2 linked regions of the Homo sapiens genome follow. The protein of the gene in region 1 purifies or fractionates together with the protein of each later gene. This does not show direct contact. Each region holds a gene or a part of one and is shown in the gene's direction. Other genes may lie near its edges.

Evidence for each region. Proteins that work in one complex are often made in the same cells at the same time.
Region 2: the proteins of CASP9 (region 1) and ACTR3 purify together in Homo sapiens (affinity purification with mass spectrometry; one large-scale study listed by BioGRID and IntAct). This does not show direct contact.

Annotation. Positions count from the first base shown.
Region 1 is NC_000001.11:15,493,216-15,496,715, reverse strand, and holds part of CASP9 (caspase-9 isoform alpha precursor), read left to right. Parts: intron 1-1,263; coding exon 1,264-1,443; intron 1,444-2,714; coding exon 2,715-2,824; coding exon of another isoform or gene 2,825-2,932; exon of another isoform or gene 2,933-3,500. UniProt on the Homo sapiens protein: Involved in the activation cascade of caspases responsible for apoptosis execution. Binding of caspase-9 to Apaf-1 leads to activation of the protease which then cleaves and activates effector caspases caspase-3 (CASP3) or caspase-7 (CASP7).
Region 2 is NC_000002.12:113,928,089-113,931,588, forward strand, and holds part of ACTR3 (actin-related protein 3), read left to right. Parts: intron 1-3,212; coding exon 3,213-3,308; intron 3,309-3,500. UniProt on the Homo sapiens protein: ATP-binding component of the Arp2/3 complex, a multiprotein complex that mediates actin polymerization upon stimulation by nucleation-promoting factor (NPF).

The DNA of each region.
Region 1 (3,500 bases):
ATTTTACAAGTCTTTCATCTTGGTTAAGTTAATTTCTAACTATTTTATTATTTTTGATGCTATTGTCAATGGAACCATTTTTGTAATTTCTTTTTCTGATTGTTCATTGTTAGTGTATAGAAATGGAAGTATTTTTTGTGGTTGGCTTCGTATCCTGCTAATATGCTAATTTTATTTGTTCTAATAGTGTTTCATCTTTAGGGTTTTCTGCATATAAAATCATACCATTTGTGAGTAGAGATAATTTTACTCCTTCTTTCCAATTTGAATGTCTTTTATTTCTTTTTCTTGCCTCCTTGCTCTATTAACTTCTAGTAATGTGTTGAATAGAAGTGGCAAAAGCAGAAATTCTTGCCTTCTTCCTGATCTTATAGAAAAAGGTTTCAGTCTTTCACCATTGAGTATAATGTTTGCTGTGGGTTTTTCATATATGGCTTTTACTATGTTGAGGTAGTTTCCTTCTATTCTGAGTTTGTTGACTGTTTTTATCATGAAAGCTTGTTGAATTTTGTCATGTGCTTTTTTCTGCATCAATTGAGATGATGATGTAGGGTTTTTTTCATTCTCTTATGAACCCCAAAAATCTGAGACAGGTCTCAGTCAATTTAAGAAGTTTCTTTTGCCAAAGTTAAGGATGCACGCCCAGGAGACAGGTCTATGCCTTTCTCTGAACATGAATTTTAGGGTTCCAAATTTAAAGGGGAAAGGGCAGGATATTGAGAAGTACACAGTTTTCAGGTAAGAGCAGGGTAGGGGGAAATAGTCATTCAAGCATTTGTCTGGCTCAGTGAATTTGCATTTTTACGTAAGGTAACATAGGGCAGGGGAAAATGCAGGGAACCTGCATTTTTACGTAAGATAACAAAGACAAATGGGGCAGGGGAATAATCAGATATGCATTTGTGCCAGGTGGGCAGAGGGGTGATGCCTCTGTAAAGATAAGCTATCCATTTACATTGCCGTGGTGAATTTTATCAGACAACTATCTTGGAGCTCACCAGGAATTTCCTTGTGGGCAAAATATGGGAGAGGTGTGTAGCTTTTCATCTTGTAGCCATCTTATTTAGGAACCAAAACGGGGAGGCAGGTTTGCGTGACCCAGTTCCCAGCTTGACTTTTCCGTTTGGCTTAATGAGTTTGGGGTCCCAAGATTTATTTTCCTTTCACACTGTTAATGTAGTATATTGCACCGACTTTCATATGTTGAACCATCCTTGTCTGTGTATTTCAATGACAAGAGGTGTTTGTTTCTGCTTCCTGCAGAGCAGAAAGACCATGGGTTTGAGGTGGCCTCCACTTCCCCTGAAGACGAGTCCCCTGGCAGTAACCCCGAGCCAGATGCCACCCCGTTCCAGGAAGGTTTGAGGACCTTCGACCAGCTGGACGCCATATCTAGTTTGCCCACACCCAGTGACATCTTTGTGTCCTACTCTACTTTCCCAGGTGAGCACATCAGAAGGGCTCGTCCTCGCAGCCAGTGGGTCTTCCCGTCTGCCCTAGAGGCAGCTGTGTGGTGAGAGAAAAGACCAGGGTATGAGTCCTGGTTCTGTCTTTTGCCCCTCTGTGACCCTGAGCAAGTTACTTCTCTCTGAGCCTCGGCTCAGGCTGAGCGGGCAAGGATGCGCGCTGCAAGGAGGCCTGCGCCCTTGGGTTCCTATGCCTCACTTGCCTCTCCTCTGCCTGACCCTGCCTCTGCCTTCGCATCTTTAGCAGGGGAATAGGAATCGTGCCTCAGGGGTTTCCATGGGAATTAAACAAGGTGGCTGGCACGTCACTGAGCACAGTGCGGGGCACGTAGTAGTTGCAGCAAGCGGTAGTTTCCTTCCTTCTTTTTTTTTTTTTTTTTTTTTTTTGAGATGGAATCTCGCTCTGTTGCCCAGGCTGGAGTGCAGTGGCGCGATCTTGGGTCACTGCAAGCTCTGCATCCCGGGTTCACACCATTCTCCTGCCTCAGCCTCCCAAGTAGCTGGGACTACAAGCACCTGCCACCACGCCTGGCTAATTTTTTGTATTTTTAGTAGAGATGGGGTTTCACCGTGTTAGCCACGATGGTCTCGATCTCCTGACCTCGTGATCCACCTGCCTCGGCTTCCCAAAGTGCTGGGATTACAGGCGTGAGCCACCGCGCCCAGCCTTTTTTTTTTTTTTTTTGAGACGGAGTCTTGCTTTGTCGCCCAGGCTGGAGTTCAGTAGCATGATCTCAGCTCACTGCAACCTCCACCTCCCGGGTTGAAGTAATTCTCCTGCCTTAGCCTCCTAAGTAGCTGGGATTACAGGCATGCATCACCACACCCAGCTAATTTTTGTATTTTTAGTAGACACAGGGTTTCACCATGTTGGCCAGGCTGGTCAAGAATTCCTGACCTCAAGTGATTTGCCCACCTCGGCCTTCCAAAATGCTGGGATTACAGGTGTGAGCCACTGTGCCTGGCAGTTTCCTTCCTTTCTTATGTCTTGGATGAGTCACTTGACTTTTCCAAGCCTTGGTTTCCTTGCTGGGAAAACAGGAATTATAGCCGGAATCAGGGGATGGTCATGAGGGTGAAATAAGATCATGATTAGGGCAGAGCCTCAGGGGCCAGGCTGCTCCTGTTGGATGTATGTATGAGTCAAGGTCTGGAGGGCGCCCGAGCCAGCGTGCATGGCCAGAGGGGTGGTGGGGAGCCGGCGGAGGGGTGGCTCTCCAGCAGTGTTCAGCCCTCCTCCCTCCAAAGGTTTTGTTTCCTGGAGGGACCCCAAGAGTGGCTCCTGGTACGTTGAGACCCTGGACGACATCTTTGAGCAGTGGGCTCACTCTGAAGACCTGCAGTCCCTCCTGCTTAGGGTGAGTGCTGCCTTCCTCTGCAAAGGAGAGGGGAGGCTGCTGAGGGGCAGCGTGTCCTCCTGGGGCTGGGGATTTGGGGTGAGCAGGGCAGGCCCAAACCAAGGGTAAAAGGTAGTAGACTCCTGCCTCTGAGCCTTGGAGTCGGCACTTTTGTGTCTCTTTATGAGAGGCATCCTGCCTGTGGTGACGTTTGCCCTTTATTCAAAGAGTTGCCTTCCCTGTCTCCTCCAAGGTCCCCAGGTTGACACCTCCCGCTCCTCCACTGATGGAGCTGGTCCTCAGTGCCAGCGCAGGATGGCTCTGTCCAGACCCTGAAGGCGGGTCATGGGCCCCTCCCTATATCCTGTGGGCATCATGTAGTCTTCTACTCTTGACCCTCAAGAATTGTGAACCCCTCCTTGTACATCGCCTTCTCAGGAGGCCCCAGTGAGGAAACAGATAGGGAAGGGTGGCCTGATAGGCCCAGTCCTACTCCATAGAAACCCGACTCAGAGCAGTTGCTTCCTCTGAGGGTCCTGTGGCCTTGTGGCTGCCTTGGGAGGCAGCATGTATGGGCCCCAGCTGCTCTGCTCAGGTATTCATGCCACGAGAAGGGGCTGCGAGGCTGGGGCCACTCCTGGCTCCTTGCAAATATTTCAGTCTGATTTGAACTTTATGAATTTGGAAATTTTGAATT
Region 2 (3,500 bases), on another chromosome or scaffold:
AAAAATGAGAATTTCCCTTTTTACCTTTTCTCTCCCTCAACACAAAATACCTATCCTTTCCCACTCCTCGCATTGTAGTTACATCACAATTTTTGGTTAAATCAATATTCTGTGTCTTTCGGTGATTGTGATGGACTATAAAGTTGAAAGAACCATACTATGGACACTCATACACCCACAATCTAGATTCGATGATTAACCTTAACATTTGGCTATAATTGCTTCATGACGTCTATCCATCTTTCACTTCATTTTAGTTTTTAAATCACTTCAAAGTGAGTTGCAAATGGGAGTCATTTGACCCCTAAATACTTTAGCACGTATTTCATCAACTAGAGCTATCATTTGTGTATGGTTATTCTTTTCATATAAAATTTACATATCATAAAATCACCGGTCTGCACCATTCAGTGGATTTTGACCAGGGTTTGGCAAACTTTCTAAGGGAGCAGATAGCAAATATTTTTGGCTTTGCAGGGGTTATAGTCCCTGAGGAAACTTAATGAGAACTTTTTATACAATGGTCCCTGTCACAGCTACTCAGCTGTGCTGTTGTAGCATGTTAGCAGCCATAGACAATACTTAAATTCATAGGTATGTCTGTGTTCCAATAAATTTTTTTTTTTTACCAAAACAGGTGGTGGGCTGTATTTGACCTGCAGGATGCATGATGTGATTTGTCCAATCTTTGTCAGTTACATACATCTGTGTAACCTAAACTCTTACCAAGATATAGAGAAATTACTATCAGCGTGGAAAGTTTTCTCATGCCCTTTTGTAATTAATCTCTGCCCCCGTGCCCTAGTGACAACCACTGTTTCTTTTTCATCTGAGATTAGCTTTGCCCATGTTTGAGTGTCAAATAATGGAATCATGCAATATGTGCATTTTGGTGAAACACTTTTACTTAGCATAATCTGGAGATTGAATTATGTTGCATATACTGGTGATTTGTTGCTTTTTGTTGCTGGGTAGTATTCCATTGTATAAATTTGCCTCACTTTATCCATTTTCCTGTTGATGAATACCTGGGCTATTTTTGTTTTTTTTTTGTTTTTGTTTTTGTTTTTTTAAGACAGGGTTTTGCTCTGTTGCTCAGGCTGGAATGCAGTGGATCAATCATGGCTCATTGCAGTGTTGACCTCCCAGCTCAAACAGTTCTCCCAGCTCAGATTCCTGAGTAGCTAGGACACACAGGCCCGGGCCACCACACCTGGGTAATGTGTTCTGGTTTAGAGATGGAGTCTCACTTTGTCACCCAGGCTGGTCTTGAACTCCTGGGCTCCAAGTGATCCTCCCGCCATGGCCTCTCAAAGTGCTGCCACCATGCCTGGCTTAGTTCTAGTTTTTGGTTATAATAAAATAATTTGACCATTGTGAACCTTCTTCTACAAGACTTTTTGTGGACATATGTTTTCATTTCTCTTGTCTAAATACGTAAGTATGGAATTGCAGCGTCATAGGGTAGGTACCTGATTGGTTTTTTAGGGAAACTCATGGGAACTTTTCCCAAGATGGTGAACCTTTTTGCACACCCCCCAGTGATGCATTAGTAATCTGCTTGCTCTATTCAAGATTTGGCTTATCAATCTTTTATACTTTTTTTTTGAGACAGTCTTGCTCTGTCACCCAGGCTGGAGTGCAGTGGTGTGATCTTGGCTCACTGAAACCTCCCCGCCTCCCAGGTTTAAGGGATTCTTGTGCCTCAGCCTCCTGAGTAGCTGGGATTACAGGCATGCACCACCACACCTGGCTAACTTTTGTAATTTTAGTAGAGACAGGATTTTGCCATGTTGGCCAGGCTGGTCTTGAACTTCTAGTCTCAAGTAATCTGCCCACCTCGGCCTCCCAAAGTGCTGGGATTATAGATGTGAGCCACTGCGCTGCTAGCTTGTCAGTCTTTAAAATTTTAGCCGTTCTGGTGGGTGTGTACGATTTTTCATTTGCTTTTAATTTTAATTTTCATTTTCTGATAATTATGTTGAGCAGTCTTTCATGTACGATTGTTATTATTAGCTATTTGTATATTTTCCTTTGTGGGGTCCTCTGATTATCTTTTATGTAGATTTTTTTTCTTGGAGTTTATAATTTCACTGCCTTGGTTTTTAGTTTACTTAATTTTGTATGTATTCATCAGTAAATTATCTCCAGACTTTTAAACATAGCTCCAGAACTCTTCTAAAGAAGTTTAAACACCACAGGGAGTTTAGCTTATAAAGGTTTTATGTAAGGTAACAGTATACTTAGTTGTTTTGCTTTATATTTCTTTTGAAATAATAATTTTAAAAATATTTAATTTTTAATGGATTCAAGTTTTATCACTTTTTCCCTTTGTGATTTGTACTTCAGAAATTTAAGGAGTTATTCCTACCTTAAGGTCAAAAAGAGAATTCTGTGTCTTTTTTAAATTTAAAAATTTTTCTTTTACATTTAAGTATTTGAGATACCTATTAGATTGCCAGTCAGACTCACAAGAATCAGAGGTCTTACCCAGTGTTAATCTTTAAAAATTGAAACAGTTTAAGTGATCATGAGGCATAGGTGAAATATGAAGTCCAAGACTGCCAGATCTCTGAGTCCTTCCTTGCCTCTTTAGAGTGTGTTCTGTCCCAGACTTAACCTGTGAGGTTTCTAAGTGATGTATACAGTCACATAAACAGAAGAGTGCTCTGCAAACATCTTGATTCTATGCTCTTAACAGGTAAATTAATATAACATTTTTCAGAAAGCTGTACCATTAGATCTGTAGAATCTCGGCTTGTTTACTGTAATCCTATATACTTCGGGGACATTCATCTAAAAGCATTACTTAGATGAGGGCTCTCCCACTGGCAAATACCATTGATGTTTTTTCTGGAGGTTTGTCATTACCATATTTAAAGGATGATTTGACTGGACCACCTTTTCCCTACCTCCAACCCTCTCTCTCCCTGCTTCATTTCTTTTTAATGTTTAATCTGTATAAGTGGTATGATATAGGCATTCAGGGTATTTTTTTTTTAAAATGTGAATTACCATACTGTTTTCATATATGTATGGATGTTTGAATTCTCTATAGTTTTCCTTTGATCTCTGTGTCTGTCTTTCTACTTGTAAATTTAATGCATTTTAAATAAAATGTTTGAAATAAATTACTTCTCATTTAAAAATTGTCAAGAAAGTTATCAAAATAATCTGATATTATCTATTTAAAATGTTATTTATTTCAATAGACTGAACCTCCATTGAATACTCCAGAAAACAGGGAATATACTGCTGAAATAATGTTTGAGTCCTTCAATGTTCCAGGCTTGTACATTGCTGTGCAGGTAAGCAAGTTCATACTTTCTAAGTTTGATTCTTACATTTTAACCTAGTTTAATTTGCTGCCTAAAATACGTACTTTTTTTTTTTTTCTGCAAAGGTTTAAACATAATGTCAAAGCATGTTATACTTCTCTCCTGAATTGTTAATTTAGAAGTAATATTATGGGAAGTGGAGATATTTAGTCAGGAAAAGAG